2 linked regions of the Homo sapiens genome follow. The protein of the gene in region 1 interacts with the protein of each later gene in a pairwise test. Each region holds a gene or a part of one and is shown on either strand. Other genes may lie near its edges. The genes, in order: SPECC1L and ECPAS.

What was found.
Region 2: the proteins of SPECC1L (region 1) and ECPAS interact in a two-hybrid assay, tested with the Homo sapiens proteins (one large-scale study listed by BioGRID).

What each region holds. Positions count from the first base shown.
Region 1 is NC_000022.11:24,413,506-24,416,034, forward strand, and holds part of SPECC1L (cytospin-A), read left to right. Parts: intron 1-1,028; coding exon 1,029-1,118; 3' UTR 1,119-2,529. UniProt on the Homo sapiens protein: Involved in cytokinesis and spindle organization. May play a role in actin cytoskeleton organization and microtubule stabilization and hence required for proper cell adhesion and migration.
Region 2 is NC_000009.12:111,365,735-111,369,559, reverse strand, and holds part of ECPAS (proteasome adapter and scaffold protein ECM29), read left to right. Parts: intron 1-386; coding exon 387-525; intron 526-2,932; coding exon 2,933-3,038; intron 3,039-3,232; coding exon 3,233-3,321; intron 3,322-3,825. UniProt on the Homo sapiens protein: Adapter/scaffolding protein that binds to the 26S proteasome, motor proteins and other compartment specific proteins. May couple the proteasome to different compartments including endosome, endoplasmic reticulum and centrosome.

The sequences.
Region 1 (2,529 bases):
GCCTAACTTGTAGCAGCTGGAGGTGCTGTGAAGAAGTGTTTACGCCCATGTTCACTCATTAGAGTCTTCATGCCACAGGTGCATCTAAATCCCTAGAAATGTGCATTTTTTAGGGTGGCCTCTGTTCACCTGTACAGGGAAAAATAAGTTAAATATTCCCCCATTCCTGGATATTTTACAACACGTGTAAAGTTCCAATATATAAAAAAAGCAGGCCTTTTTCCCACCCTCAAAAGCTTCTATAGTCAAGATTCTTGCATTGAACAGGCAGGTTTTCGTTTTCTGCATCAAGTCACCAAGGGCGCCCTCCTGATCCTGCGTGCTCAGCCACACGTCCTGTGCTCGTCACCCATGGGAAGGGAAGGATCTCTCAGGCCGGCCCCTTGGGTCACTCCCCGAGCCTTCAGCAGCAGCAGTGTGTCACTTTTTGAGGCCTTCTGTCTCGTGTTAAAGGCTGTGAGACACTGGAGTGAGGTGGGGGTGGGTCCACGGTTTCCCAAGTTTATTTTCCTAGAACATCAGTTCACCGGTCACAGGTCACTGGCGTTCAGCAGAGCACAGTTACAGAGCAGAGTCTTGGATGATTTCAGACTGTTGCCCATGGTGAAGGCCGTCAGAGTGTTGGTTCTGGGAGCCCCCGACAGAGAGAAATTCTCCTAGGCCAGTGCCTGGGGCTGAGAAGGGCTCTCAGAAGGGTCCCCCAAGGAGTGGTTTAAGAAGAGAGGCAGGCGCGGGGAGGAGGGAGGAAGTTCCTCCGCCCAGACTGGATGAAACCCTTCCCATCCTGCAGAGCCGTGAGCAGGGAGGCACCTTGCCTGTGGCTCTGGGGCAGGGGTGGATGGCCTGGGGACGATGCTGATGCCCAGGGAGGAAGCATTCTTGGCCAGGCTTTAAAAATGTGTAATTAGGCCTAGAAAATATTTCAAGGCCCCATCCAACTCCAAGAGCCCATGTTGCTATGGCAGAGCCCATTGGCACAGCCTGGAGGTGACCTGCAGTTCTAACCAAGCGTCTTCCTTGTCTGTCAGGACATTAATGAAATGGTACGGACTGAACGACCCGACTGGCAGAACGTGATGCTGTATGTGACGGCGATCTACAAGTACTTTGAGACCTGAGCATGCCGGGAGGAGCCGCCCCAATAGCGGGGGTACCCCTCCACAGCGACCGAGCGACACCGACGCCATTAGCTACGCACCCCTGTAAAGCTTCCAGCAACTCTGGGCTGCCCCACAGCGTGTGAGCCTCCAGCTCGGGGCTTCCGTATTGGAAGAACTCAGCCGTGTGGCCCACAGCTCCCACCAGGGCCCCTCCCACATGACCCGTCCATTCAGGTCATGTGGGCTCAGCACACATCCTGCAGGCCGGTGGCTGCTGGAGTTTTCCTTCTGAAGAGAATATTGAACTACACTAGTGCTCCAGGGCACCAAACAAAAAGGGCTCATGCACAGCTGAATTTGGGAAAAGGGATTCAGTTCTGTGGGAAACTCACTAGGGTTGATGAAGGCTCGGCCGCGGCACTTCCTGACTATTGGCTGGGGTGGGTTCCGGTGCTGGTGAGAACCCAGAAGGAGAGTCAGCGCCTGGCAGTTCCCAGCGCCCTGGGCCCTTCACCGTCCTAGTTTGGAGGAGCATGTTCACCACAGACGTGGGTCAGCTGCCCCACACCTGACGGGGCTGTCCCGGCCGACACAATCCAGGCGTGTTCAGCCTGAGCTAGGAGAGTATCTAGAGGGCGTGGTGCGGGCACGCCAGGGCTGGGGTGCTGCTGCTGCACTCACGCGGCTGGGCTTTCTGGCGGGAAGCAGTTACGGGGGCCCCTTGCCTGGACTCAGCGACCTGTCTTCCAGCCTGGAAGGGGTTTGGAGTCCCAGCTCTGGCTTTAGATTTCTTCATCATAAGGAGTTTTTCTAGTTAACATTTTTGTTTTGTTACGAGCAATGCTGGAAAAGGTCGCTCCTGTTCTGTTAGTACCAAAGTTACATTGTTTCAATAAGCATAGAAATCTAAACAACATCTGTACATTAGCATGGTGAGAGCAAGGAATAAAGCAGGAAATAGGAGAAAAGTAAACAACTTTAGGGAGCCCAGGCAGTGTCATTTAAACTCACTGAGTCACTAAGACATAATTCTCCTAGGCCAGAGTTAAAGAAAGTGCCTTAACTCTTCTTGTGAGGGCAGCCACTGCCCTCCGTGGCCAAGGCAGGACCTCCAAGACTCAGTGGTTGAGTTGTCTCCTACCACCATGCCCGCCCTCCCCAGGTACTGGGTCCATGCCCCCTGTGCCCACCCTCCCCAGGTGCTGGGTCCATGCTGTTTGAACCAAAGCCTTATTTAAAGGTGGTCACTGGAGATGCTCTCAGGCCAGAACTCAACAGCTATTTTTGGGAATAGGGATCTCCCGTGTGCCTAACGCAGTAGCTATTGGTTTGAACAATGTCCAGACAAGACCTGTACCTTTGAGAATATAACTGTGTTTGGCACCTGCATAGCACCATGAGGAAGACCAGCCACCAGTGGAAGCGGGGT
Region 2 (3,825 bases), on another chromosome or scaffold:
CATCACTAGCAAGCTGGACCAGTTGCTTCTCTTAGCCTCTGTTTCTCTATCAAGAAAGAGTTTGGATTTAGATCATTACTGAGTTTCTTCCATCTTTAAAATCTGATTCTAATGCAAGTCTTTTCATGTTATGCTCAAAAGACTACATATGCAGTATTTTTTAGCTTTTGTTTACAGATGCCTGTAAAGTATTGCCTAAATTTATTAGAGATACAGTATTCTGGTTATAAATTCTTGTTGTAAATAGGGAAACTTATGGTAGAGAATTTATCATTTAACTCTTGGTTAATATCTCCTGCCTTGGTTGGTACCCTGATAGCTTTAATAGTATACCTGTAACTTTGAAGAAGAAAATATTACATTTTCTTTTCTTTGATATATCCTAGAACTCACTTGAAAGCAGTGGGGTCCGGACAACCAAAAATGAAGAGGAGAATGAAAAGGAAAAGGAGCTCCAGCTGGAATATCTGCTGGGTGCCTTTGAAAGCCTGGGCAAAGCCTGGCCGCGAAACGCGGAGACCCAACGTAAGCACCAGAAACTGCATTTGAAGTGCTGTAACCAGAGGTTACTTAATGAGAGCGAAGAATTTTCTCTATGACAAATTATAGTTATTGTTTCTTATCGAGCCTGATTGATTAATAATGAGAATTATCCAGTGAAAGTTTTTTGTCTACATGAGTCTGTGATCTCACTGATCATTGTACCGCTGTAGCTAGGGCTGCTGTAAGAAAGTATCACAGACTGGGTGGCTTAGCAGAAATTTATTTTCTCACAATTCTGGAGGATAGAAGTCTGAGATTTCGAGATCAAGGCGTCAGCAGGGTTAGTTTCTCCTGAGACCTCTCTCCTTGGCTTGGGAATGGCTGTCTTCTCCCTGTGTCTTCACGTGGTCTTTGGTGTCTCTGTGCCCTAATCACCTCTTCCTATAAGGACACCAGGCACGCTGGATTAGGGCCCACTCATATGACCTCTTTAAAGGCTCTGTCTTCTATTTAATAATAATACAGTCAAATTCTGAGGTACTGGGGGATAGTATTTTAACATACGAATTTTGGGGGCACAGTTCCACCTATAATAACCATGATACATTTTATGCAGATAGTTTGATAGACGAGTTCTACTGATCTTCTTGATGATCATAGCTCTATTCAGAGGAATGCACAAAGTTTATTAGCAGGGTCTCTTTATCCTGAAATGAATGGTCTTGTTACCAAGTGTTCAGTAAGCAACTGAAATCCCTGTTTCAGTGAAAAACTCATTACTATTTGGACAATTTTCAGAACTGGACATGTATTTCCCAAAGATTAAATGAACAGTAAACCTCTATTATTGGATGAGGTTGCAGTTAGTTTGGAGTCCCCTGACAGGGCCTTAACCTTGGGATGATACTACCCTTTACACTTGATCTTAGCCAAAAGGCCAAGAAGTGATGATGCTACCCTTTAAGCTTGCCTTGTGTTGGGTCCTACAGTGCATCCTGCTGAAGATCTTAGTATTCGTTTTTTTTTTGTTTGTTTTTTTTTTGAGACAGGGTCTTGCTTTGTTGCCCAGGCTGGAGTGCAGTGGTGCAGTTCTTGCAGCCTTTACCTCCTGGGCTCAAGTGATCTTCCTGCCTCAGCCTCCCAAGTATTTGGGTCTACAAGTGCATGCCACGACACCCAGCAAATTTTTTTTGAAGAGGTGAGGTCTTGCTATGTTGCCCAGGTTGGTCTCAAACTCCTGGGCTCAAGTGATCCTCCCACTTTGGCCTCCCTCTCAAAGTGCTGGGATTATAGGTATGAGCCTCCATGCCCAGCGACAATATTATTGAATGTTATAAAAAGTACTGTTGATTATTTGTGATTGGATATGTCTAGAATCAGTTAAGGTTCTCTTTGAGCCCTGTCATCCTTTGTGTGAACTTATATATTTGCTATGTTTATAGGAAGGGTTTCCCAGAAGATACAAATTTGCAGGTGGTTTTATTTCTTAATATTATGTTATAGACTGCCATGGAAGTCCACTAATATGATGCCATAAAGAGTATTAACTTTTCCTTGATAGGTAGAGAAAGCTAAAGTAGGGAATTATATGAGAAAGATGATACAAACATAAAGCAGTTTATTTTAATATAAGACATAGAAGGTTGTTAATAGAAATGTGCATTTATTGAGAACCAAGGCCTTTTCTTTAGGAACTTAACTGTTACACATTGGCTTCTCATATATATCTACAATTTCTGGGTTTTGTTTCTTTAAAACAGAGAAAGAAATTTCAAGCTCTTATGAGACAATCCTAGTGCAGAATTCTAGATTTTTTATTGCCTCCCCCCATTTTTACATTTGTTTGAGCCCTACTAAATCCTACAGTAATTAAAAATAACTTCGTTGTTGAGTTTTCTGCTGATTCATCAGTTGGCATAATATTAATTATATAGTTATAATTACAGTTGCAGTTGGCATAACAGGTTTATAATAAAGCACTGTTGACTCTTGGTAAACCTGCAATTTGCAGAAGCTTGTGAGCATCTAGAGAGGAGCTTCTGGCCTCCAGAGTTCTTTCTGTGGCTGTCATTCAGGGAGTTTTGAGGGGCAAAGGGAGTGTGGTTAAAGTGCTTTCTCAGTTCCATGGAGAACCATATGCCTTGAAAGTGAATATTTGTGAACAATTATATTGCACCTTTGTGGGGGCAGTTTCTGATCAAGGAAATTTGTTTGGGGATTGAGTACAAAGTCATGCTGAAGTTTTTGGGGAAATTTCAATGGCTTTAATTAAAAGTATTTATTGTTTTATTTCTCTTTTTCCTGCTTTTCTCTCTCTTATCCTCCCCACCTTCTCTCTTTCTCTTTCCCTCTTCCTTTCTCTTGCTCTCTCTGCCTGTCCCTCATTTATTCCATCTCTTGTTCTTTTATACTGTCTCCTGCTCTGTCCCACCTTGTCTTTTTTTCCCAGGTTGTTATCGTCAGGAGCTGTGCAAACTGATGTGTGAACGGCTAAAACTCAGCACGTGGAAAGTGCAGCTAGGAGTCCTGCAATCAATGAATGCCTTTTTTCAGGGGTAAATTGCTTCATGGCTCAGTTTTTTATTTTGTTCCTCCCCGCAGCATTTTATGTATAATCAATGGAATTTTTATACATTTAAAAACTGGTAGCTAAAGTGACAGTGATACATACAGATAGAAATTGTGACAGGAAAGTTTTAGACTGTTTCTTAATAATTGGCATTTGTACCTTGCTTTCTGATTTGTATAGGTTAATGCTTTTGGAAGAAGAACATGCCGATCCTGAGGCTTTGGCTGAAATTCTGCTTGAAACTTGTAAATCAATCACATATTCTTTAGGTGAGTGTAGTAAACTAAAACTGATGAGGGAGTCCTAATTTTAAAGCTAAGGAGCTGAGCTTCAAATATTTCCTACTTTGTCTTAGGAACTAAATTTCTGAAATAGCTACTGGACTCTGCTACTTATTATACTCCATGTGTACCCCTTAACTGGAATATTTAAATCTGGAACTATAACAGGATTTTAGCATCTAGTTTAGAAAAACCTTCGTGACAAGTATTTTTACAAAATTGTTACTTGAAAGTAATTTCAAACTTACAGAATGGTTGCAACGACAGTACATGTAATACTCTGCAATATGTATACACTTTATGCAGAATCATTTGTTAACATTTTGTGCCATTTGCTTTGTCATTTGGACTTCTATATACATGTTTTTCTCCTGAACCATTTGAAAGTATGTTGCTTACTTCAGGCCCCCTTGTTCCTCAATTATTTAGTGTGCCACGGTACAGTTGTCAACTTTAGGTAGTAAACATGGATGCAGTTTTTTAAATCAAATG